Linked DNA regions of Homo sapiens. The protein of the gene in region 1 interacts with the protein of each later gene in a biochemical or structural test. Each region holds a gene or a part of one and is shown on either strand. Other genes may lie near its edges. The genes, in order: RPS19BP1 and SIRT1.

The links.
Region 2: the proteins of RPS19BP1 (region 1) and SIRT1 form a complex in vitro, tested with the Homo sapiens proteins (2 studies listed by BioGRID and IntAct).

The regions. Positions count from the first base shown.
Region 1 is NC_000022.11:39,525,684-39,541,851, forward strand, and holds RPS19BP1 (active regulator of SIRT1), read right to left. Parts: upstream 7,066-16,168; 5' UTR 7,056-7,065; coding exon 7,004-7,055; intron 6,841-7,003; coding exon 6,712-6,840; intron 4,872-6,711; exon of another isoform or gene 4,781-4,871; intron 4,235-4,780; coding exon 4,137-4,234; intron 3,941-4,136; coding exon 3,809-3,940; 3' UTR 3,410-3,808; downstream 1-3,409. UniProt on the Homo sapiens protein: Part of the small subunit (SSU) processome, first precursor of the small eukaryotic ribosomal subunit.
Region 2 is NC_000010.11:67,904,989-67,915,655, forward strand, and holds part of SIRT1 (NAD-dependent protein deacetylase sirtuin-1), read left to right. Parts: intron 1-1,174; exon of another isoform or gene 1,175-1,266; coding exon of another isoform or gene 1,267-1,299; intron 1,300-1,801; coding exon 1,802-1,949; intron 1,950-3,057; coding exon 3,058-3,137; intron 3,138-4,267; coding exon 4,268-4,454; intron 4,455-7,485; coding exon 7,486-8,043; intron 8,044-10,667. UniProt on the Homo sapiens protein: NAD-dependent protein deacetylase that links transcriptional regulation directly to intracellular energetics and participates in the coordination of several separated cellular functions such as cell cycle, response to DNA damage, metabolism, apoptosis and autophagy.

The DNA.
Region 1 (16,168 bases):
AGATGTGACACAGCAGCTGGGTAGGGCTTGGACATGCTGGGCATGCTCCTTAAGACTGGTGCTTAGGGAGTTGCAGGGGTCAGCCCGGCAGGGGACTGGGCTGGGATTGGCAAGGAGAGGCGGCCAGGATATGGGTGTGAAGAGAGGGAACCCCCCCGCTGCCAAACAAGAGAAAGGATGGAGGGCCCATTTCCTGAGATGGGGAAAACCATGGGAAGAGCATGATTTTATTTCAAAGAGGCCAGGGAGAAATAAAAAGTCCCTGGCTTTGGGAGGCCAAGGCAGGTGGATCACAAGGTCAGGAGTTCAAGAACAGCCTGCCCAATATGGTGAAACCCCTATCTCTACTAAAAAATTAGCTGGGCATGGCGGCACGTGCCTGTAATCCCAGCTACTCGGGAGGCTGAGGCAGGAGAATCGTTTGAACCCAGGAGGCAGAGGTTGCAGTGAGCCAAGATCACGCCACTGCACTCCAACCTGAGTGACAGAGTAAGACTCCCATCTCAAAAAAAAAAAAGAAAAAAGAAAAAGCCCTTGCAGTGACACTCAAGTGCCAACCACCCTTGCCCAGGTGCCCCATGAGGTGGGGTGGGGGCTCTCAGCCTAGTTGGGAAACGGAAGGTGGATGCTTAGACCAAGTAGAAAGTGGCAGCTTCAGAAGAGAGAGCAGGGCCTCCCAGCTGGGCTTTGAGGGGTGGGGAGAGTTGTGGACAGAGAATGAGAACACCCCATGAAAGTCAGCCGGGCAGGCTGGGCGCGGTGGCTCACGCCTGTAATCCCAGCACTTTTGGAGGCCGAGGTGGGCGGATCACGAGGTCAGGAGATCGAGACCATCCTGGCTAACATGGTGAAACCCCGTCTCTACTAAAAATACAAAAAAAATTAGGTGTGGTGGTGGGTGCCTGTGGTCCCAGCTACTCAGGAGGCTGAGGCAGGAGAATGGCTTGAACCCAGGAGGCGGAGCTTGCAGTGAGCTGAGATGGCGCCACTGCACTCCAGCCTGGGGGACAGAGCGAAACTCCGTCTCAAAAAAAAAAAAAAAAAAAAAAAAGTCAGCCTGGCAGGAAAGAATGGGGCACACACCAAGTGCCACAGTCCCACTGCCTGTGGCGGAGGCCTTTGCCCAGGCTAAGCTCTGAGCCTGCAGCTGGGCCTCAGCAGAGTCCCATGTTGCAGTCCTGGCCCACTCCTGCCTGGCCCCCTTGGCCAACTCCTCTAGTAGCAAAGAGGGCCAGAGAGTGTGGGGGCTTGAGCAGCCCATCCCACTGTGGAAGACACAGGAAGCCATGGCTGGGGCCCTCCTCTGGGTCATGGGGTGGCTTCCTCAAACCCTGCTTCCCCAAACCACCTGTGACGCTTCCGGTGCTTTCATACCCATCCATGATGTCTAGACTGAGGGAGGCCTCCTGCTTTGTCCTGTCGGCCCTGGGTTGAAGTGACAACTCAGTGTCCTCTTTTTTTGAGACAGGGTCTTGCTGTCACCCAGGCTGAGGTGCAGTAACGCCATCTTGGCTCACTGCAGCCTCTGCCTCTCGGGTCCCAGTGATCTTCCCACCCCAGCCCTTTTCCCCACAAGCAGCTGGGACCATGAGTGCACACCACCATGCCCAGCTAATTATTGTATTTTTTTTGTAGAGATGGAATTTTGCCATGTTGGCCAGGCTGGTCTTGAATTCCTGACCTCAGGTGATCCACCTGCCTCAGCCTCCCACAGTGCTGGGATTACATGTGTGAACCACTATGTCTGGCCTCAGTGTCCTCTTATTTGGGCCCTGTTGGTCACCAGGTCCTGGCCATCACAGCACCTCTTCGGCCCCCCATGGGGACAAACCCTCTCTCCTCCAGTGCTACCCCAGTCACCCCAGCTCCCTGCTGCCTTCCAGACAGCTGCACCAGAACTGCTCAGGGTGACAGTTAAAAGGCAGACTCCTCAGTGTCCTGTCCTTGACCCACTGGACCAGAGTGCCAGCAGTAAACACAAATGACTGTCACCCAGAGGGGCATGGACAGGCACCCAATAGTGTTATTTGGCATTAAGTGTAAGATTTATGGGGAAGCTCACAAGTGGGGAAGCAGCAGGACCCTGGCTCCCATCCTCCTCGTGGGACAGTGCCTGTCACTCTGCACTCTACACAGGGAGGGAGCAGGAAGAACACCTGGGCGATTATGTAACAGTGGGCGTGTTCTTGTTAGAAAGGGGCCCTGGGCCTATGGTCAGCCTGTTCTTCCAGGCGCTAGAGGCTGAGTTGGCTTTTTGTTAAGCCGCTTAAAATATTAAGGCCACTAGTCTCCACGGATATCCAAGTTTCTCTGCCCAGTGGGGTCATTACAGCCCAGCAGGCAGGAAGAGGCCCTGGTCTCTAAGGTTTGGGGTCACAGCACACTCCCTCCCCATCCCCCTGCTGATGGAGGTCGCCTGGAGACAGGACCTGACTCCAGCTCTGCCCCCGGAAGATGTGTGGCCCCCTCATGTCCTCATTTAGGATGGAACACGGTTAAAGACCAGGAACAGACCACCCAGGGCAGTGGGGGAGCAAGTGCTGTTACAAATAACAGGCCCGAAGGCAATGTCGTCAGGGAACCCAGGGAGCCAGATGTCACTCCCATCAAACCCAGCCTCAGGGGACTGCCAGGCTCTCGACCAGCAGCAATGGGAGTCACCACAGCAAAGGAGCCCTTAGGCTATGGTGGGGAGGAGAGAGTTTAGGAGACAAAAGCAGCTGCCTGAAGGCTTCCCAGGTCCCTTCCCCTCAGGCCCCCTGATGAAAGACTCCTGGGCTCTCACTTCTCACCTCTCCTCCGCTGGCCCTGCCTCCGCTTCCGCCTCCTGTCTTCACTCACACAGTCATTCAGTGCCTGCCTGTCCTTCACCTCCTGATCCCACCCCATGCCTGCTGGAAGGGTCCCGCCTGCCTCCCCTCGCCTCCATCCTTCAGCTCAGGCACACCTGAGTGTGAAACCGTTTCTTCAGGTTACCTCCTGAGTCCTCTCTACTGTCCCCTCCCCACTATGACAGGCATTTGACCCCACCTGGCTGCTCACCAGAGCATGAGCCAGAAAAGGAACACACCGGGTGAAATGCTCCGCTCATGGCGGACTCCACGCTCCCCGGGCGCAGGCGGAAGTAGCAACACTCCCACTGCCGGACCCAGCCACCTGCACTGGAACTGCTCCCAGCAGCTATTTTTGCCTCAAGAGTCACCTTTTCAGCTGTGGTGGCCATCCCCAGAGGAGGGAGGCGCCCCTGGCAGCAGAGGTGGGTGTTCTGATGGCTGCCTGCCGGGGCTGGACTGGAGGACTTGTGACCCGGAGCTCAGAAGCACGCTGGGAGATGGGGAAGGCAGCGTGGCGCTTTGGTGCCACAGGAGATGGGAGACACCCTGTGGGGCAGACCAGCAGCAAACACAGCTCTTGGGTTCACATTTATTGTAACTTGGAAGCCCACCCTTCTTCCTACTCCTGGAGCTGTCGTCCCCAAGGGCTCAGGAATTAGCCTTGCTCCACAGCAAACAGCCCAGAGGCCCCACCTGGGCAAAAGCAAACAAAACAGATACGTTCCTTTCCGGCAGGTGCAGATGCTCTGCCCAGGCCTGCGGAAGCCAGCTCCGGTCTGTGTGTAAATCCTCCCCAGGACTTCCGGCCCACCAGCTCCATTCCAGCCTCCACTCGGCTCAGCTCCGCGGCTTCCTCGAGCCAGGCTGGTCCTGCATCGCCATCTGCTGGCCGCGCGGCACGGCCGGTTCCTGGAGCCAGCAGGAGTCGGAGGCTGCAGGGCTTGAAGGCCTCTTCACCGTGCCCTCCAGGGAGCCTAGCTGCCGAAGTATTCCTGCTGGAACTTCTGGAAGTCTTCCTCGGTGAACACGGTGCCCTCAGCCTTCTTCTTCTTGGTCTTGGCCACAGGCCGGTCACAGGCCTTGCGGCCCCGGTTCTGGCGCAAAATCTGGCGAGGGTGCGGGACCGAGGGCCCATCATTTCAAGAGCAGAGGAGGCCCGCAAAGGTCACAGGGGAGTTCGGCGCAGGGCAGGGCTGGCCCAGCCTCCCACCCTATGCTCAGGGCTGAGACCGCCATGGGTCCCTAGGGGAACAGCCTCGGCTCTCACCTCCCAGGTCCCTTCCTATAGTACCCTCGACCAACCTGCTGGCTCACAGACTCAGCCACGGTGCTTCTCGTCCTGGTCAGAAACTTCAGGTTTACTCTGAGGTGGTCTCGACACTCTCGCTTCCGGTACTCGTCTGTGGGTAGCAGGCAGGGAGCACCATTTCAGATTCACTCCCCCTGGAACCATTCTCAGTCCCTGGCCCATGGCCCTGCCAAAGACCTCATCGTTCCCTTCCCAGGTTATTACAGCGGCTGGGCTCTTCTCCATCAAATGCATTCTCCACACAGGTCCTGCTGAAAGCCCCAGGCTCTTGGCCCCCACCCCCATTTTCCAACAATTATGTCCTGAATACTACTCACCAAGGGAGCTACTCTGGAGCTTTCGCTTCAGTGAGAGATGAAGGACAAAGGACCCAGTATTTTAGAAGCGCAAACATTTCATGGAGAAAAACAAAAGAGGAAACAGAAAAGGGGAATTCCAGGGGTGGAGGGTGCAATTTCAAATAGGAGGGAATGAGAAGGTCTCACTGAAATGACTCGAAGAGAGCTGTGGATATCCGGGGAAAGAGCATTTGTCTAGGTAGAGGGAACACCCAGTGCAAAGGCCCTGAAGCAGAAATGTGTCAAATGTGTTTGAAAAACACAAAACAGCTGGAATGGCTGGGTGCGGTGGCTCACACCTGTAATCTCAGCACTTTGGGAGGCCGAGGCAGGCAGGTCACCTGAGGTCAGGAGTTCGAGATCAGCGTGGCCAACATGGTGAAACCCCGTCTGTATTAAAAATAACGAAAATTAGCTGGGTGTGGTGGTGGGCACCTGTAATCCCAGCTACTCGGGAGGCTGAGGCAGGAGCATCGTTTGAACTCGGGAGGCTAGAGGTTGGAGTGAGATGAGACTGCACCACTGTACTCCAGCCTGGGTGACAAAGCAAGACTCCATCTCAAAAAAAAAAAAAACAAACCAAAAACAACAACAAAAACAGCTGGAGTAGGGGGAGTGGGTAGCAGGAAGAGACCAAGTTTGGCTGGGGGTGGGGGTAGGTCATATAGCCCTTGTCAGGCACCCTAAGACCGCCACCTTTTAGTGACTACAATGAGAGCCACCCAGAGGAAAAACAAGGAATGACTTCTGATTTTACACGATCACTTTGGTTGCTGTTGAGAACAAGATTACGGGGGGAGGGGCATGTGGAAGGCAGGAGACCGGCTAGGCTTCTGCAATAATTCAGGCAAGAGACGATGCAGCTTGGAGCAAAGTGGCAGCTGCAGAGGTGTTCTTTCCATTGGCTGCGAGGCTTGCCATTCCTCTCACTCAGCATCTATGTGCCAAAACCTGTGGTGGACACCAAGGCTGCGGACAAGCCCAAGGAGGTGTGTGCCTTTAGGAGCTTCCATCCAACAGGGGAGGTGGGTGAGCACCCAGGACACGACAGTGAGACAAGGGCTGGGACAGATGGGAATGACCTCTGGCACTCCACACTCCTGCTTCATGGCAAGTATCGCTGGGGCTCAAACCTGTCTCACTTTCCTGCCTCCAGACTTTGGCTTAAGTTGTATTTCCTCCTTGGAATTCATAATTCTTTTAACAAATACTTTAACATCTTTTATGCATTAGACTCTAGGGATTCAGACACAGTAAGAGCTTGCCACGTCCTGACACATGTCAAAATATCACCATCTTGCCTACACCAGCCCCTCCGAAAGTCTTTATGTCTATTAAGTGACACTACGTCCCCCAAGAAACTAGGCTCCACCTTCACAGCCAATTCACCACTAAAACCCCTCTAAAGGCTGAAATTCTCTGCTGCCCCCTCTTTAACATATTTTCCACCTGCACAATTCTCTTGTTATCTCTGCTGCTATAGCCACTGCCCAGGCCACAGCATGTCCTATTTCAATGGAGTAGGTAATAGCAGCACTCTGGAGACACAATGCCCGGGCAGCCACAATGCCTGTACCACCTGGGCAGGTGCCTTTTTCTGAATCTGTAAAACGGGGGTGATAGTAGTATCGACCTCAAAGGGCTGCTGTAAGGATCAAACGAGCTTACATTTGTACAGCACTTAGAATCAGCACCTGGTACAGAGTGTTAGTGAATGTGTTTAAATGCTCCATCTTTGATCCTCATTCACTAGGTCACCTTTACCAGCCTTTATTTTTTCAAATTCTCAAAGGCAACAACCTCCTTTCTGACTCAGGACCTTTGCACATACTATTCTTCCTAGAATATTCTCCTACTTTTCACCTAGCTCACTCTTATACATCCTTCAGCTCTCGGCTGAAATGTCGCTTCCTCAGAGAAGGCTGACTTGGCCTAAGTCCCCATCAGAGTACCGTAGTCTTTTAATTCATAGGCTTCAATGCACTTAGCAATGACACACTGGGTTTGATATTCTTTGATGCTTCTCTCCCCACTAGGGCCGTAGTCCACGAGGACCAGGACGGTGGCGTGTTCTGTCACCTTCGTATGTCCAGGGCCCCGCTCCGCGCCTGGCACACAGTAGGTCTAGCAATACCGGGCGAACGCTTCAAGCCCTGCCTCAAGCGCCACCTCCTCTGGGGCGCAGGTCCCAGCACCGGAGGCAGCACTTTCAGCCCCTTCCCGAACTTACCCAGTGCCGACTTGGGCACCTTTCCCTTGGCCGAGTTCCGCAGTTTCTGGGCCTGAATTGCCTTCGTCTTCCGGGGCCGTTTCACCGGAGCCCCTCTCGGCTTGGCCTGACCTGGAGGGTCCCGGGGGGCTGTAGGGGAAGAGAGAGGAAGAGACCCAGGTCAGAGGGCGCGCAGCGTTCCCATGCCACTGGGGCTAAGCCCGGCCTGGATTGTTTTCCATCCAGGGCTCCCGCCCGCAGCCACTACCATCCTCCTGCCCGCGCCGGACGTCCCCTGGCCAGCCCTCCTCACCCTCGGACGCCGCCAGCAGCTCCAGGCCCCGCCGCAGCAGGGCGGCGGACATGGCGGCGCTTGGCTCCGCCCACGAGCCTCACACTACTTCCGACCTGGCAGTCCCTGTCGTCTCGGCGGAAACCCGAGCCCGAACAGAGGGATCCGGAGGGGGATGGGCGGAAGTGCCCATCTTTCTTAGGACGCATGCGTTAGGGGTTTACACTTGAGCGGAAGAAGGGGCGGAAACTGGAGGCGGGTCCAAGGCGCAGAAAGACACATGTGTTACTCAATCCCAATCTACCTGGCTCCTGGCGCTCAGTCCCCTCCTTCCCCGGAAGCCGTCCGCAACCTGCTCCGCCGGGTTGGCCAATCCTCTCGGGTCTCGTGGCTCCGTGGCGGGCTAGGATGGGGACAGGGCGGAGTGTTTTTCATATACTTCAACCAGCACTAGGTATCGCACAGGTTGAGTGCAGCATGAGAATCCAGTTGTCTTCCCTTAAGCCAGACATTAAAGACATATCTTTGTTTTGAAAACTACAATTATTTCTCATAAAATACGTTGTTTATGTTACCAAGCAATGGGTTTATTGTCATTTTAAGTGAATTAATGAATATGTAAAATTTTTGTTTTAGTTTCTAGTATGGCAAATATCAGTTGCCTACATACAAAAGTTCTTTGGGATCCTGAATTTTTTAAAATTTATTTTATTTAATTAAATTAATTTTTTTTTTGAGACGGAATCTCGCTCTGTCGCCCAGGCTGGAGTGCAGCGATCTCGGCTCACTGCAACTTCCGCCTCCCGGGTTCAAGCGATTCTTTTGCCTTAGCCTCCCGAGTAACTGAGATTACAGACGCCCGCCACCACGGCCGGCTAATTTTCTTTTTAAAAAATTTTTAGTAGAGACGGGGTTTTGCCATGTTGGCCAGGCTGGTCTTGAACTCCGGACCTCAAGTGATCCGCCCACCTCAGCCTCCCAAAGTGCTGGGATTACAGGAGTGAGGGGATTCTGAAGTTTTAAATGTAAGAAGCTTCTTAGACCAAAACATTTGAGCCCCTCTGGCCTAGAAGTGACACTGCTTACCTGGGGGAGGAGCCCTGGGCTTGTTCGCTGCTCCATCTGCAGCTGGCAGCCCAGCACCTGGCATGGAGAAGACACGCAATAAGTGAACGGTGAATCAGAAGGGACCACTGGGTTCACTCAGCCGGGTTCTGAGGGCCTTCTGTGTACTTGACACCACAGAGTGTGGGACCTGGAGTTCGTCCTCCGGGATAGACCACACCGTTTAAGCTCCATCGGCTAGAGAGTAATAATAACAACCAACACAAACTCAAGCATTTGTGCTGTTCTACGTGCTTTACATTTGTTAACTTGTTTATCCCCCCTACCCTTCCAGGTAGGAATTGTCTTTTGCATTTTACAGACGAGGAAACAAACACAGAGAGGCGAAGGTCACACGGGTGGAGTCAGGGGTGGGAGTTAAGACTGGCAGCCTGGCCGCAGGATTTGTGGGGGCGCTCCTGTCCCAGCCACCAGGGAGAGCAGTGCTGTGGTGCTGGGTGGGGCCTGTCAAGCCATGGGGTCAGGTAGGCCCCTGGAGGGTGAGGAGGAGCTGACCATGTATGGGCAGCGGGGATTGTTCTAGGCGGAGACCGCTGTAGCGAGGACCTATCCCCTGTGACACACGAGTGGCCCTTCAGGATGCCATGCTGGGCTGGAGGGTCGCAAAGGCCTCAGACTCCATGATTTTGTCCTAAGGGGAGTGTGGGGCCTGGAACCCAGTGACTGTTCAGACATATGCCTCCTTCCTGCTTCTAACATAGCCGGATTGTTGTCTTACTTATTATGTGTATTGCGTATTGTCTGTTTCCCCGCCCATACCCCACTGTAAGCTCCGCAAGGCAGGGATCTTTGTTTTGTTCATTGTTATATCCCTAGCGCCTGGAACAGTGCTTGGCATACGGTAAGAGTTCAGAAACGCACGAAATGAGTGGATGAGAGCTGAGTTTGGGACGCCAGTGAGCCGCTGGGTTGAGGCCCAGGAGGTCGTGGGATGTGCAGCGAGTCAGCCTCTCAGGAGGGCAAAGGACCAAGCTCTGTCCTCCTCCCGATCTAGGCTGAATCAGCCCACGGTCCCCCGGGTGGAGGAGTTTTCTGCCAACGTGCCAGGTGGACCCCTGCAGCGTCCGCAGCCCAGCCGGGCACGGGCGGGACGGCAGGCCAGGCGCTGCCCCAGCCTCCCGCGGAGTTATCAGCACATCCGCGGGGCCGGGCGCATTTCTGCCAATAGGTGGCGCCGCAGGACAGCTTTCTCACGCGGCGAGACTCCAAGGCCTCAGCTGCGCCCACCCGGGCTAGGTGGGGGTGGGGGTCCGGACGTCCTTCTGCCTCGGCTGGCTCCTTGCAGCCAGCACCGTGTGGCCCCGGCTTCCTGCTGTCCCGCACCCCCTCCCACTCTCACCCTGGCCTGGAGGAGTGGCTGGGGAAGCTGAGGCAGAGCCACCAGGCTGGGCTGCCCAGGGCGGGGGGCGAGGTCCCTTCCTGAAAAGTGTGCAAATGACAGCTGGGAGCTGTGTGACCCCAGCAATCCCTTAACAAAGAGTGCCTCAGTTTCCTCATTGGTTGGATGGGGCTTGGCAGGGCAGCATCCCCCTTCTAGGAGAGGTGTGAGAACCGGTGGATCAATACCGTGCCGTGTGGGCCGGGCCTGGGTGGGTCTGCGCCCAGGGACTGCGTGTAGAGGGTGCTACAGCGCTGCCATGCTACCTGCTCCCTCTGGGCAAGACGGGATGGGCAGGGGCAGCCACTGTTGGGCCCAAGCAGATCACCCCACAGCCCGCATTTGGGCACCTGCGACCTGCCAGTCTTGACGTTGGCCCTGATGGGTCAAGCTGGGGGAGGGGGAGGGGGGTTGGGCAGCTGCTTCCTGTCTCCCTGTGGGAGGGCGGGTCATGAGGTCTCCCAGGCTAGTTCCCCACCTGGCATGACCCTGGATGAGCGGCTTCACTGCTCTGAGCCTGTTTCCACACTGGGTCCCTGCCTGCCCCTGATCCCCGCACTGAGGCTTTTGGCCACACAGAGGAACCATCGCCATAAAGGGCCCTTCGGCCCCCATGCCCTATGTCTCCTCCCAGGCTCCGTGAAACAGCTTAACTACCCTGGGCCTGGGAGGCTGAGAGGCAGGTGGCTTTCTGCAGGGCTGTGCAGCCCTTCAAGAACAGAGTCAGGACTCAAGCCCAGGTCTCCGGGTCCTAAGCAAGAGTATGTGTGTGGCCCCCAGGGACCAGTGGCCCCCTGGAGAGGGGACCGTAGGGTCTCTGGGAGGTGAGCAGTTCTGGAGAGGGTGTCCTGGTGGTCTGGGGCTGGCACAGATGCCCCGGTTTCCACAAGGCCTCGGCTCACACAGCTGTGTGTCCACAGGCAAGCCGCCCTCCCTCCCCTAGCCCATTTCCTCTTCCGAGGTTTTGGGGGCTTTAGAGAGTATTGTCCAGTCCTCCATACAGGGCCGAGGCGGGAGGCGCCCGGAGCTCCTGGCTCCTGTGGTATGAAGGGAGCACTTGCTCCAGAGCCAGGCTGTACATCCTGGCTTTTCCACTTACTAGCTGTGTGACTTTGGGCAAGTCCCACAACCTCTCTGTGCCTCGGTTTCTTCGTTTATGAGTTGACTATGATAATAATCCCTACCTCATAAGGCTGCTGTGAGGATCGAGGGTTGAGCATTTGGAATTCCGTTGGACGCAGAATAAGCACTCTAGTTTGTGAATCAGTGATTGCTCTGTGGACAGCAGTGTGCCGGTGGGACCTGGGCCCCCATCTGTGGGTGTGACCTGCACTTGTATGTCGCCTCTGGATTTCCACACTCTTGTGCTCACACACGGTTAGGTTGGAGGCCACAGGGAGTAACACCTGACAGCCTGGAGTCGCTGATTCCCGTTCAGACGCCGCCTTTGCCGCTTAGCAGATGTGTGACCTGGGCACCTACCTCACCTTTCTGAGCTTCGAGGGGGCGCTTGGGGTCTGTTGGAGGTGCAGTGAGGTGGCATGAAATGTGCTCAGCACCAGGCCTGGCATTTATTCATCTGTGCAGTCAATAAATACCTGCTGATACCACTGACGGAGCAGCCAATAGGAGAAAAACCAGCCAGCATTTGCTGAGCGTGAACCAGGAGCTGCTCCACGTGCAGGAGGCGGGCATTGGGGTGAATGAAGGGCTCCGTTGGGCCTGGCGGTGCCCACATGCTCGTGTTACACTCTCAGCAAGTGTGAGTCTCTGTCGTCCAGGGTCTGCAGGGTTCAGGGTGGCACCCACCAGTCCCAGGGACAGCAGCCCCCTCAGGGCATCCAGGCAGAGGCCAAGTGGCTTCTTTCCAATCATGTGAATGGTGAAATAGTGGCATGCCTGATTTTAAGGGTATAATGAAGACACAGAAGAAGCTACTGGAAATTATCCATGGAGATATGGGGTCAGCCAGTAACCCCCGGGTGGGGGTCAAAGGTGGGGTCTTTTTAATGTCTCCACCCTGACCAGCCAAAGATGCGGCTCTGCCATTAAGCTACTGTGTGAAGTTTTTTTTTTTTGTTTTTTTTTGTTTTTATTTTTTTTTTTTTGGAGAGCAAGTCTTGCTCTGTCCCCCAGGCTGCAGGGCAGTGGCGCGATCTTGGCTCACTACAACCTCCTTCTCCTGGGTTCAAGCGATTCTTCTGTCTCAGCCTCCCGAGTAGCTAGGATTACAGAGGCCCGCCGGTGTGCCTGGCTAATTTTTGTATTTTCAGTCGAGACAGGGTTTCACCATGTTGGCCAGGCTGGTCTCGAACTCCTGACCTTAGGTGATCTGCCTGCCTTGGCCTCCCAAAGTGTTGGGATTGCAGGCATGAGCCACCAGTGCCTGGCCTGCTGTGTGATCTTGGGTACATTCCTCCCAGTCCCTGGAGAAAGATGGGGCGGAGTCCCCAGTCCTGCCAGGTCCCCAGGGCCACTGAGATGTTAAGAGGTTACAGGAAGAGGAAAGGGTGAGCTTGGAAGACTGAGGGGAGAACTTGGGGGCCCCTTAGCAAGCAAGCACCCCTTCCTCAAGCCAACTTGTACCCAAAGACCTTACCAGTAGGTTGGGGTCAGATGGGAGGTCCTTAGGCAGAGCGGATGTCACCTGGCTCTGGGAACTTGACCTCGCTGTAAGATCTAGAATAAGTCCCTCCTCTATTCTGGGCTTTGCTATCCCCATCTGGGCAGTAGGGACAGACATAGCACTTTGTCGCAGAGAAAATATCCCTATAGGGCTTTGGGAGAGGAGGGCGTGGGGAGTGGGTGGTTCTGGGGCCTCAAGATCTCTGTGGTGGGGGTTCTGGCTCCCAAGGGGCTAGAATGGGGTTGGGGAGAGTTCTGTCCCTTCTAATCTCCGTCCTTTAATTCTAATTATGTCTCCATTAAAATGCAAATTTCCAACCAATACCCTTGGAAGGGAGGCCCTGTTGTCATAGCAACTGGCGTCTGTGGGGTGGTTGGGGAGAGGAGCAAGTCTCCATCTTCTGATCCTTCCAGACCAAGCTGGGGCCTGCCCAGAAGCCCCTTTCCTCCCCAGCTCAGAACTCTGAGCATCTCATCCACAGCTTGGGGGGCTCCTGCCCTGAGGCCATGTCTTCAGGGAAAGGGAGCTGGGTAACCATGCACAAATCATTTCTCCTTCTTGGCCTCAGTATCCCTATCTGTGAATTGGAGATAACAAGTCCTCTCTTGCACGCCCGTCCTGGGGATTCAGTGAATTAATGTATGAGCCATCAGGGAAGGGAGTCTGCCTTCCAATGAGGTTCCCGGGAACTCCCTGAAGCCAAGGCCTGGAGGCCTGGACCGCTCCCTGTGTGGGGTCAAGGCTGTCTCCTGCCTTCAAGTCCTACTCCCTGCTCCATCTGTGGACAAGGAGCCAAAAAGATGGTGTAGGACGTACCTTTAAGGCCTATGTAGACTCATTTCTTCAGGCTGAAGCTTCCATCCTGCTAATCATGTAACCATTTAACTTTATGCTGTTCTTTCCTTGCAAGTTGGATATGGATACCTAGAAAATGGGGAGGGGGTCTTTCTTCTCCCAGCGGATCTGAAAACAAGGGAGGATAAAGAGAAGAAATTTTAAGAAGGGAAAAGACAGCTGGCAAAAGAAGCAGCAAGAGGTGAATATGTGAGGCCTTTTTGCCTCTGCTGGTAGGAAGCTCAGGTTGGAAATTATTATTCAATTGTCCTAAGTGTAATTTATTACATGACTGTATTATATCCCTATATTATTCAGCTCTAATAAACGTTCATGTCAACTTTCTAGTACATCTAGCTCATGCCTATTCCCTAGTGGTTTCTGATCTTTTATTTCACTTAAAAAATCCTCTTTAGAAATAGCTGAGAGTATAAATTATAAATTAGCAATTATGACAGAGAGAGAGAGAAAGAGAGAGCATGCACAGCTGTTCTGTGCAGACCTTTCAGCCCCTAGGCTTCCATGATTGTGGCCTTATACTAAGTGCCAGGAGGGGAAGGATATACGCGGTCTTGTTCTGTTGCCCAGGCTGGAGTACAGTGGTGCGATCTAGGCTCACTGCACCTTCTGCCTCCTGGGCTCAAGCAATCCTCCTGCCTCAGCCTCTGGAGCAGCTGGGACTACAGGTATGCACCACCACACCTGAATAATTTTTTTTTTTTTTTAGTTGGAGTCTTGCTCTGTTGCCCAGGCTGGAGTGCAGTGGCATGATCTTGGCTCACTGCAACCTCTGCCTCCTGGGTTCAAGTGATTCTTCTGCCTCAGCCTCCAGAGTAGCTGGGACTACAGGTGCGCGCCACCACGCCTGGCTAATTTTTGTATTTTTAGTAGAGATGGGGTTTCACCATATTGGCCAGGCTGGTCTTGAACTCCTGACCTCGTGATCTGCCTGCCTTGGCCTCCCAAAGTGCTGGGATTACAGATGTGAGCCACCTTGTCTGACCCACACACGGCTCATTTTTGTATTTTTTGTAGAGGTGGGGTTTCACTGTGTCATCCAGGCTGGTCTTGAACTCTTGGCCTCAAGTGATCCACTGCCTTGGCCTCCCAAAGTGCTGGGATTACAGCTGTGAGCCATCACACCCAGCCCAATTTTGCATTCTTAACATTGAGCTGGTGAGAATGCATCCCATCAAGAACAAAGGTGAGCCCCTGCCTCTAAAAAAATTAAAAAAAAACCCCAACTATTGTTGTATTAAAGTTCTGAGATTTTAGAATTTTGATAGCATAGCCTAACATGTACTGACTAATACATCTTCCAGTTCCCCTCGTGACAGTCCCCCTTGATCCCTCTGGGAAGCCAGGCTGGGGCTCTGGCATGGTCTGTATCACAGGAGGGGTACAGAGGCACAATGAGGAGCAACAGGCTTTGCCACAGTTTCAAAGTCACATGCTCACTCAGTCTTCCAAACCATTCCCCCTGTGGGCTCAGCCTTCGAGAACACAAAGGACTAAGAAGCCTGCGCCTCAGCCTCTCCACTTCCCTGGCCAGGAGCTGAGCCTTCTTCCAGGCCCTGGGGTTTCCTCAGCCACAGAGGAATCCACACCTGGGGATCATGAGGTCGCTGGGAGGTGGACTTAGAGAAGAATGAGTGTTGGGGCTTGGGCTCCCTACCGTGTACTAGGTGCCAGCCTAGGACAGTCCGCCCCTCTGGGCCCCCTTGGCCAGCAGAGAGAAGGTGCAAAAGTGTGCTCCTGTTCACCCTGCATGGTAGAGCTGAGCGTGCAGGGAACAGGGCCTGAGGAGGTCAGGGGGACTTCCCTGAACCCCAGAGCTCTTGGGTAGGTGTGTTCGGAGGGCTGCATCTGTGTGAGGTGCCCTGGACCAGGAGGCAGGATGTGGCCAGAAGGGAACTGTAGGAGCTCAGAGGAGAAAAGAGAAAAGAGTTGAACACTGGACCAACAAACTCCACGAAGACCCCCAACAGGGGGCCAGTTCAGTCCATTCCAGCCCGTGGTATCCAACCCAGGAGATGCTCCCTGAGTCTCCATTTTCTGTCCCTCAGGGCTGGGCTTTGGAGACACAGAAAAGAGTGGTGCTGTCCCTGCAGAGAGACCCTGCCTTGGTGTGATAAGGGCTGGTGGTGCCAGAGTTGGAAAGGAGGGGAGGCAGGGAAGGAAACCAGCTGGGGGCCTGAACACCAGGCAAAGCATTGTTACCCTGAGGGCAGCACTGGCTATGTAATATGTGGAGCCCACAGCAAAATAAAAAGGCAGGGCTTGGCCGGGAGAGTGGCTCATGCCTGTAATCCCAGCCCTTTGGGAGGCCGAGGCAGGCAGATCACTTGAAGTCAGGAGTTTGAGACCAGCCTGGCGAACATGGTGAAACCCTGTCTGTACTAAAATATACAAAAATTAGCCAGGTGTGGTGGCAGGCACCTGTGATTCCAGCTACTCGGGAGGCTGAGGCAGGAGAATTGCTTGAACCTGGGAGGCAGACCTTGCAGCGAACTGAGATCACGCCATTGCACTCCAGCCTGGGTGACAGAGTGAGACTCCATCTAAAAAAGAAGGGCGGGGCCCCTTGTTAGAAAATTGTTAAACATTTCGAGGTGGCCACAGCAGAGCATTAGCCAAGCATGAGGCCCTTCTGAGGGTGGGGCCTTGTGTGACACTGTGTGTGGCTCTCTCTGTGAAGGAACCCTGCTCACAGGCACACAGAGCTTTGGAAGAGTTTTGGCTTCGGCATTTTCTTTTTCTGTTTTTTTTTTTTTTTTTTCTTTTTTTGAGACAGAGTCTCACTAGTAGCTGGGACTACAGGTGCACACCACCACGCCTGGCTAATCTTTTGATTTTTTTTTTTTTTTGAGACGGAGTCTTGCTCTTTCGCCCAGACTGGAGTGAAGCGGCACGATCTCGGCTCACTGCAACCTCTATGCCCCGGGCTCAAGCGATTCTCCTGCCTCAGCCTTCCGAATAGCTGGAATTACAGGCGCCTGTCTCCACACCTGGCTAATTTTTGTATTTTTTTTCAGTAGAGACGGGGTTTCGCCATCTTGGCCAGGCTGGTCTGCAACTCCTGACCTCAGGTGGTCCACTCGCCTAGGCTTCCCAGAGTGCTGGGATTATAGGCATGAGACACTGTGCCTGGCCTTGATTTTTTGTAGAGATGAGATCTTACTGTGTTGCTCAGGCTGGTCTCGAACTCCTGCCTTCAAGTGAT
Region 2 (10,667 bases), on another chromosome or scaffold:
GTGGACGTGGATAAGGCACACAGTTAATTCAGGGACGGTGGAGTCTTGGTACTTGCTCTTTTTCCCTGACCTTGCTTTGGAGTTATTTTATTTTTTAAATTCTGCATTTGGCATGCTATTATCACTTGCTTACTATTATAGGTCCTATTTTATCTGTTGCCTAGCATATTCTCATAGTGCCTAAAATACTCTAAAAGCTATTTCCAGAGGGAGCTTTAATGAGACATACAATGCTTAATCTCTCAAATGTAAATGTACTAGAACAAAGCATTCTGGGGAAGAAAACAGTGGTTGATTTAACTGAACTCACTTTTCCAAAACAGTGGCTTTTGATTTTCTGTAAACATTGACTTTATTAAGCTTTTCCCTTGCTACTATATGCACTCTCTATTTCTTAAATTGCAAAGAGTTATTCATGAAATTTGTGATAAATATTTGAATCTAAGGCAACGTTTTTGGATTCTTTATACGAGGTTTTTAGCAGCATGTGTACATGTATGTGATAGCTGTTAACGGAATTCACTTAAGTTTTACTTAGAAGCCTGGGTAGTAGAACCTAGAAGTTGCAGTGGGAATTTTTTTTTAATTTGAAAGATTAAATAGGTAAAAAGTCATCTTTAATCTCTATTAAACTTTTTTGTATAATGTCAGAAGTGAAAGTTCCCCACATCTGCTTACAGCCTGTTTGTATCCTTCCTGACTTGATTGATTAAATGGACATCTCTATATACATATGCATATAATTTCAATTTTTGCTTAGTAACAAAAACAAAAGTTACACATACTGGTGACTAATTTGCTTTTTTCACGTATGTCATGAACCATTTTCCAGGGCAGTTCATCTAGATCTCCCTCAATTCTTTTTAATGGCTACATATTCCACTATTATGGATGTACCATATTTATACAACCGGTTCCCTATTGATGGACATATGGTTGTGTCTAGTTTTTTGCTAGCATTGTGATAGATTAGAGCCTGTAATGAATGGTAAGGAAGTAAGTAGATGATAGCACTACTACTTTGAAGGAAAAAGTAGAGAATAAACTTCCTTTGCCATAGTCACTTACTAAATGGAATTTAATAAAAACACTGTCAAAAGTTGGGAGGACCAAAATTGATACTTTTTCTCTGATCTTTTTGCCATGTGTATATCTGAATTCTTTGTTTTTAAAGAAGAAACAGCATTGAAGCATTATTTGGGGGGAAAAACACACACACAAAATCCAGCAACTCAGCATTCATGAGCAACTCTATACTATACCAGTATGTGCCTGTGCAGTGGAAGGAAAACAATTTTGGTAAGGATTAAAACTTTAGCTTTAAACTTCCAGCAGGTTGATATTCTAATGAATGATAAATCAAAAAAAAATTTTAAATATTCTTGTATTGACAGTGCTTTTTTTTTTAAATCACCCTACCTTGATATCTGTAATTTTAGTTTAAACTTTCCCATTTTTCTTTAAAGAAAAAAATCTGAATTTGCAGCCAACAAAAATTAGATATCCTAAGGTTGTATTACTTCTGACTTTTATTAAAATATCAACATTTCTTAGAGATGTTTATGGGCCGACTTTGTCTTTTTCTTCAAGGGGCCAAGTTCACTAATTGCTGAGTTTTATGCATATGACAGCAACCGTCCTTTTGTAGGTGTGTGTCGCATCCATCTAGATACTTTAAAATGCTCATCTATTTCATTTTTAAAATTATGTGTGTGGGATTATCAGTATTTTTTTGTTAAACATATGACATCTGTAGTTTATTTCACTAATGTAAATTTTTTCTACCATTTGCTTGATACAGGAAATATATCCTGGACAATTCCAGCCATCTCTCTGTCACAAATTCATAGCCTTGTCAGATAAGGAAGGAAAACTACTTCGCAACTATACCCAGAACATAGACACGCTGGAACAGGTTGCGGGAATCCAAAGGATAATTCAGTGTCATGGTTAGTAAACTTCAGAGTGGTTTTCTGTAATTTATTTTAGTTTTATAGGAAGATATTTCCTATAAAGCTGACTGCCATCGAGAAGTGGAGATAAAGCATTATTTAATCATGTTATCTCATTTATCGATAACCTCAGAAAAGTAGAAAACAAAAATAATAAAAACAGAAGTATTGGCCTTGACAGTTAATTATAGAAAACCTCAGATATTAATTTGCTTTTGATTTCAAAAGATGCTGCAGTTGCATGCATTCAATTATTTTAAATAATCTTTTCTGGCTGAGTGCAGTGGCTCACGCCTGTAATCCTAGCACTTTGGGAAGCCGAGGCGGGCAGATCCCATGAAGCCAAGAGTTCGAGAACAGCTTGGCCAACATGGTGAAATCCCAACTCTACTAGAAATACTAAAATTAGCCGGGCATGGTGGCAGGCGCCTGTAATCCCAGCTACTCAGGAGGCTGAGGCACGAGAATCACTTGAACCTGGGAGTTGGAGGTTGCAGCGAGCCAAGATTGCACCATTGCGCTCCAGCCTGGGAGACAGTGAGACTCTGTCAAAAAAAAAAAAAAAAAAGAAAAAGAAATTCTGAATACAAGAGTAGTATTAGCTGTTAATGAAGAAATGTGACATCTTTAGTTTATGAAACTAAAAGAACTGGATAGTTGAGATGTACAGGATTCAGAGATTCAGAAATGTTTAAAACAAGTATCAACAGGCCATTAGGTATCTAAAGTGTTTCTAAGAACTGCCGAGCTAAGGTAATAGAGTTGGAACTGTCCAACTCTGCAGGATTTTAGCCCTGGAGGAGTGAGCTGTTACAGTTTTGTTGAAAAGAGTAGCTTTAGAAGGCATCATTATATTAGTGTCTCAGAGATTGAGAATCATATTCATTCTATGTATAAATATATAAATTCTTCATCCCCTAGATTCTCCTGTAGTATATCACAAAATCTGCAGTGTGTTCTGAGGTTTAAAATCAAAGTTAAAAACAAAAACAAAAATCCTTAAACCCTCTTAACATTTGTGATGTTAAACTTTATAACGTTTGTGGTGTGTTCAAGAAACAGAAATACTTCTTTAATAAAGCATATATATGTTGTTTGTTTTTAGGTTCCTTTGCAACAGCATCTTGCCTGATTTGTAAATACAAAGTTGACTGTGAAGCTGTACGAGGAGATATTTTTAATCAGGTAATTTGTTGCCCATATTTTAGGAATTGTTCATGTCTCTGAAGTATTTCTTCTTTTGCCTCAAAATCCTTTTTTACCCCTTTAAAGTATATATGGTACAGAAAGATTCAGGAAGAAAATAGTTAGCATTTGGGAATTTTGGTAAAATACACGAGAACCTTTCAATACCTTATATAGAAAACAGCCCTATAAAGGCTCTTCAAATTATGAAATTGGCTTCTTAGTATCTAAGCCGAACATAAAATGTCAGATCATAAGCAAGTTGTTGTTGTAGTAGTTTTTCTCCTTCCTCTCCCTTTTTGTGCCTGTCAGATTTGGACCTTAAATTAGTTATGGTAATCTAAAATTATTTCATACATGTTCATTGCCAAAAAATATAGGAAAATTTGGCAGAAAATAAAAATTATCCAGAAATATGTCCTGTGTGCTTAGCAATATATGGAGGTAATCATGTCATTACGAAAGAGGAAGAATAGTATATTAAAATGGAGTCATTGGTCGGGTGCAGTGGCTCATGCTTGTAATCCCAGCACTTTGGGAGGACGAGGTGGGTCGATCATTTGAGGTCAGAAGTGAGACCAGCCTGGCCAACATGGCAAAACCCCGTCTCTCTTAAAAATACAAAAATTAGCCTGGCATGGTGGCATATGCCTTTAATCTCAGCTGCTTGGGAGGCTGAGGCAGGAGAATTATTTGAACTCGGGAGGTGGAGGTTGTAGTGAGCTGAGATCATGCCACTTCACTCCAGGCTGGGCAACAGAACAAGACTCCATCTCAAATAAATAAAATGGAATCATTTTATTTGACAAATGTCTATTTTTTTTTGAAAGGATCAATTCCCATTTAGTGTATATACACACATTATGTTTTTCCTCTTAATATATGATGGACTCTTCAATGTCAAGTGTTTTTCTACATAGATATTATAACAAGAGCATAGTATTTCATTGTTTCATAGTATGTTAATAAACTACCCATCATTGACAGTTGCTGTTTATCCATAGCTTTTCTGTTTTGTTTTTTTTTTAATAATTCTGAAATGTATTCTTAGAGGTATGGAAATGTTGACTATTTCTAACTTGGGCTTACTCTTTGCTTCTCTACCTCAACCAAAATCTGAAAATATGTAGGTAGTTCCTCGATGTCCTAGGTGCCCAGCTGATGAACCGCTTGCTATCATGAAACCAGAGATTGTGTTTTTTGGTGAAAATTTACCAGAACAGTTTCATAGAGCCATGAAGTATGACAAAGATGAAGTTGACCTCCTCATTGTTATTGGGTCTTCCCTCAAAGTAAGACCAGTAGCACTAATTCCAAGTAAGTTGGTGATGGTTTTTGGAGAACATTTCTATATATAATGTCATGGGTTGTGGGTCTGTATAATAGACGCTAGTAATCTTAACTCTGCTTCTGTTTGAAAGAGTGGTGAAGAGCTAATTTTAGAAATTGTTTGTTTGTTTGTTTATTGAGATGGAGTTTCCCTCTTGTTGCCCAGGCTGGAGTGCAGTCGCATATCTTGGCTCACTGCAACCTCCGCCTCCCGGGTTCAAGCGATTCTTCTGCCTCAGCCTTCTGAGTAGCTGGGATCACAGGCGTCCACCAACATGCCTGGCTAGTTTTTGTATTTTTAGTATAGACCGGGTTTCACCATGTTGGCCAGGCTGGTCTCGAACTCCTCAGCTCAGGTGATCCGCCTGTCTCTGCCTTCTAAAGTGCTGGGATTACAGGCATGAGCCCCCATGCCTGGCCAGAAATTCTTTATTTTTAGTAGAGATGAGGTCTTGTTGTGTTGCCCAGGCTGGATTCGAACTCCTGGGCTCAAGTGATCCTCCTGCCTCAGCCCCTTGAGTAGCTAGGATTACAGGCACGAGCCTCCACATCTGGCTGAACTGTTTTTTTAGGTGGCATTGTTCATTGAGACTGGTGAATCTGACATTTTGATGGGGGGTGGAGGGTTGTCAAAACGCAAGTAATGTTGGTGGCTCGTGCCTGTAATCTCAGCACTTTGGGAGGCCGAGGTAGGTGGATCGCTTGAGGGCAGCAGTTTGAGACCAGCCTGGCCAACATGGTGAAACCCTGTCTCTACTAAAAATACAAAAATTAGCTGGGCATAGTGGTGTGCACATGTAGTCCCAGCTACTTGGGAGGTTGGGGCATGAGAATCGCTTGAACTCAGGAGGCAGAGGTTGCAATGAGCCGAGAATGTGCCACTGCACTCCAGCCTGGGTGACAGAGTGGGACTCTGTCTCAAAAAATCAAAAACAAACCCAGAAGTAATGCTAAACTCTACTTCTAATTTATGTGAAAAATTAAGACAAAGGTAGAGTTCAACTTAGACTTTTTGGTGGAATGTGTTTTTAATGTTGCAAGGGTTAGCATCAATTAATTTATGAAATGGTCCTTTATCCTTATATTTTTTGATTACAGTTTTGATCTTTCAAATTTAATTGATTTCACATTTAATAAATTCAAATGTATAGTTTGGTAGAAGTGTAACATACCATGTAAGATGGAATTTGGGGGCTCAGAATGATTGGTTCATTCTTGTAGTAACAGCCATGCCATAACGGTGATATGTCGATATAGTTTACCCAAAAGGGTGTGTATATAAAAGTGTTCACATAAAATTTAAATCCTTATTACTCTCAGGAAAATTTCTTTGTCATATATATTCTCATACTGTCTGTTTCCTCCTCTAGTTTAGAATCAGAGGAGGAGAGAGAGAGATTTCAGTTGCATCAGATGTGTCCTTTCATAAGTGAGGGAAAGAGGAGAGGAAAAATATTAAATCCCTAGCCAGAGAATTGAATTAGACCCCACATCAGCAGTCAAGGCAGCCAGAGTAAACAGTTGGAAGAAACATGGAGTCAAGCTCTTCAATTTTGTGTCTATCCCATATCTCGTGGCTTTAGCAGTTAACTCAGTCTTACCTAATTAGCTGTGAAATTCTGTTAAAGTAGAATACAAGACAATTTGCAATTAAATGAAACATGAAAATTTAATATACAAATCTCTTTGTTCTTGAGTTGCTCTTCTTAAAGCAAAATCAAAGGCACTCTGCTTAAAAGCTTTTCTTTTTATTTTTTAGAGACGGGTGTCTTGCTGTAGCTCAGGCTAGAGTGCAGTGGTGCAGTTTCAGCTCACTGCAGCCTTCAACTCCTGGGGACAAGCAGTCCTTCCACTTCAGCTTCCTGAGTAGTTAGGACCAGAGGCGCACACCATGCTTGGCAAATTTTTAAATTTTTTTTTGTAGAAACGGGATTCACTTTGTTGCCCAGGCTGGTCACAAACTCCTGGCCTCAAGTGATCCTTCCTCCTCTGCCTCTCAAAGCATTAGGATTACAGGCATGAGCTACCATGCCTGGTCCTTAAAAACTTTTCTTTCAAAAGCTTTCTGTGGGATAGTATGATGTGTTGCAAAGATAATTAAAAAAAGAAACAGGTTTATAATAGCGTAGAATATGTTTATATGACTTTTTCCCTCCCCCCCTCCCCTCCCTCCCTCCCTTCCGTTTGTCCTTCCTTCCATTCATCCTTCCTTCTGTTAGTCCTTCCTTCTGTCCATCCTTCCCGTCCGTTCTTCCTTCCTTCCTTCGTCCATCCTTCTGTCTGTCCTTCCTTCCGTTCATCTGTCCGTCCTTCCTTCCTCCCACCCTCCCTCCCTCCCTCCTATCCTCCCTCCCTCCCTCATTGCCCAGGCTGGAGTGCAATGGCATGATCTCGGCTCACTGCAGTCTCCCGTGTTCAAGCAGTTCTCCTCCCAAGTAGTTGGGATTAGAGGCATGCGCTACCACACGCCCGGCTAATTTTGTGTTTTTAGTAGAGATGGGGTTTCACCATGTTGGTCGGGTTGGTCTTGAACTCCTGACCTCAGGTGATCCGCCTGCCTCGGCCTCCCAAAGTGCTGGGATTACAGGCGTGAGCCACTGTACCCAGCTCACCTTCTTTATATCAGGAGCTACTTAAGTAGAACATTTATGTACCAAGAACTCTTCTGTGCACTTGACTAACTCATTTAATCCTCACCACAGTCTTGTGGAGAAGTACTATTATCATCCCCATTCTGCAGACAAGGAAATTTGAGGTTCAGAGTGGGAAAGTCTGGGAAGATTGCTCAGGGGTAACCAGGTGATAGGAGCAGAACTTGAGCGTTTTATAAAAGACACTTAACTGCCCATCTGCTTGCTTGATGAAATGTAATGGCTTGGTTAAGTATTTAGTGCATGGGTCTTTTTTGGGAATTTGGAGCTCAAGCCCTTGTTGGATTTTTGCATAATGTATCTGTTGTGGTTTTATTAGCTTACTTCCTCCTCCCTTTTTCTAACTCTTATTTTTCACCCTATTTTAGGTTCCATACCCCATGAAGTGCCTCAGATATTAATTAATAGAGAACCTTTGCCTCATCTGCATTTTGATGTAGAGCTTCTTGGAGACTGTGATGTCATAATTAATGAATTGTGTCATAGGTTAGGTGGTGAATATGCCAAACTTTGCTGTAACCCTGTAAAGCTTTCAGAAATTACTGAAAAACCTCCACGAACACAAAAAGAATTGGCTTATTTGTCAGAGTTGCCACCCACACCTCTTCATGTTTCAGAAGACTCAAGTTCACCAGAAAGAACTTCACCACCAGATTCTTCAGTGATTGTCACACTTTTAGACCAAGCAGCTAAGAGTAATGATGATTTAGATGTGTCTGAATCAAAAGGTTGTATGGAAGAAAAACCACAGGAAGTACAAACTTCTAGGAATGTTGAAAGTATTGCTGAACAGATGGAAAATCCGGATTTGAAGAATGTTGGTTCTAGTACTGGGGAGAAAAATGAAAGAACTTCAGTGGCTGGAACAGTGAGAAAATGCTGGCCTAATAGAGTGGCAAAGGAGCAGATTAGTAGGCGGCTTGATGGTAAGAAAGGCAGTCGGACCATTTTGAAAGTATAAATGTCATAACAGTATTTCCAAAAAATTAGCTATTTCGGCAGGTTAATCGATAGGGTAGCTTTATGTAGTTGATTCTGTTTAGAGAAACTGTACAGTTCGTAATCAGAAAGGTAAATCTTCTGGTATCTTAACATGATATGGAGAAGGAAGTGTTTAATAGTGCTCTGTATGTTGTGTTTCTCTAGGGGATGGAAAAATAAGAATGGGTTATTAGCTGGCAGAAATGATGACAGATTTGAGTGCTTACTGTAGGTCAGCTGCTTTACATATGTTACCTGATTTTAATCTGAGGTAGGAACTATTACTCTTCTTCAGGTGGGAAAACTCAGGACCATAGAGGTTAAATACCTCATGCACAGTAACTACTAAGAAGTGGAAGAACCAGATTAAAATCCAGTCTATTTATGCTTAGAGCCTGCCCCCTTAACTACTATGCGGTGTTGTCTCAGATGTAGAACACATCTTTGTTTTCTCTGAGGACTTAGAAAAAACACGCGTGATTCTTCTCCACTGAATATAGGAATAGTTTCTACCCTGTTTAGAACATGCATAGTCTTTATCAATAAGTGTTAACTGACATGTGAAATCACTTTCTACTCTTTGGAAGCCGATGTTTTAAGTCCAAGTAGTCTGTATGGTGGAAATTCCTAACTTATGTTAAAAAAAAGAAAACCACTGTAACTTAGCTATAACAGTCTTATATAACTTAGAACTTTAAGTCTCATTCCATTTACCATACTTGGCGAAAACTGACAAATTTTAGACAACTGTATTTGAGTATTCCAGTCATTTGCTGTAAATACATTTTAGTTCAGTTGAATAAACCTTTGGCCTTTTTCATATTAGGCACTGTGGTAAGTTATGGAGACACAGTGATTAATGTTGTGTATAATTATAAATGTGAGTGATACTCATTAATACTTTGGTATAGGTGCTGCTGAAGAACAAAGTACTTTATTATTGTTTTGAACAAAACATCACACAAAAGGTAGATTTTTTTTTTTTTTTTTTTTTTTTTTTTTTGTGACGGAGTCTCACTCTGTCGCCCAGGCTGGAGTGCAGTGGCACGATCTCAGCTCACTGCAACCTCTGCGTCCCAGGTTCAAGAGATTCTCCTGCCTCAGCCTTCTGAGTAGCTGAAATTACAGGCATGCGCCACCTTGCTCGGCTGATTCTTGTATTTTTAGTAGAGACGGGGTTTCGCCATGTTGGTCAGGCTGGTCTCAAACTCCTGACCCCATGATCCATCCACCTCGGCCTCCCAAAGTGCTGGAATTACAGGCGTGAGCCACGGCGCCCAGCCCCAAAAGGTAGATTCTACTTGGAGATTAGATTACAGAAGGCTTTCTAAGGAGCAAAATATTTAACAATAAGTAGGGATTTAAAAAGAGCAGACGTGTTCACAGGGGAAACTAGAAAAAGCATAGAGGGATGCTTACGTTTGCAAATCGTGGCAGAAGTCAGAAAGTAGAAAAATTGCTACTGACTTAGATACACAGTTGTCTCTAGCGTATACAAAGTCTACCTATGCACTAAGACTTGCACTGGGAACTTTTCTTGAATGTCATTTTGACAGATGTGTCAAACGGACAATCTCTTTGCCCAGGAAACAGAGTTAACCTGGAACAGTCATTTTTTTTTAAATTTATTTATTTTTTGAGACGGAGTTTTGCTCTTGTTGTCCAGGCTGAAGTACAATGGTGTGATCTCGGTTCACGGCAACCTCCGCCTCCCGGGTTCAAGCGATTCTCCTGCCTCACTCTCCAGAGTAGCTGTAGCTGAGACCACAGGCGCATGCCCTCATGCTCAGCTATTTTTTTTTTTTTTTTTTTTAGTTTTTGTAGAAACAAGGTCTTGCCACATTGCCCAGGCTGATACCAAACTCCTGGGCTCAAGCAGTCTGCCAGCCTTGGCCTCCCAAAGTGCTGGGATTACAGGTGTAAGCCACTGTGCCCTGCCTGTGGTGTCTTGGGAAACTCATGAGTACTATGTGTCTGTTGTAATAGAGGGAAATAAGTGGTTTTCACAGTGATTTGTAGTGGACTGTGAAATTTTAGGGATTCAGGTCAGAGTTGTCACACAGGTTGTAGTCAGGGTGAGAACTGGGTCATGATGCAGTATGAAAAAGTTCGAGAGCCACTTTGGAGAGAACTTGAGATAGGCCACCTACCAGTGTGGTAACCAGGCTTTTGAGAATTCGTCTGGGATACGGTACAATAAATACTACATCTATTATGTGTGAAGAGATGTTAAGTTAGGGACATACTGTGAATTCAAGGATAGAAAACTTTTCCATCAGTTTTTAGGGATCCTACTCTTTCACTTAAACCCCAAATGGCCAAGCTAGGATTGATTTGGTGTGCTGTAGAAAGAACTTCATTGGTATTCATGGATTCACATTACATCTTAGAGGAGTTTTCAAAAGCGTCTTAGACTGTATGTGTATATACACACACATTCTGAAGCAGTAGGTGGGTCTTGGGGCCTGAGATCTCGGGTGAATGTAAATTTAGGTTCACAGGTGATACTGTAGATTCACAGTGTCTACAGAGTACACTATGAATTTGTGGTGACTACATTATTGACAAA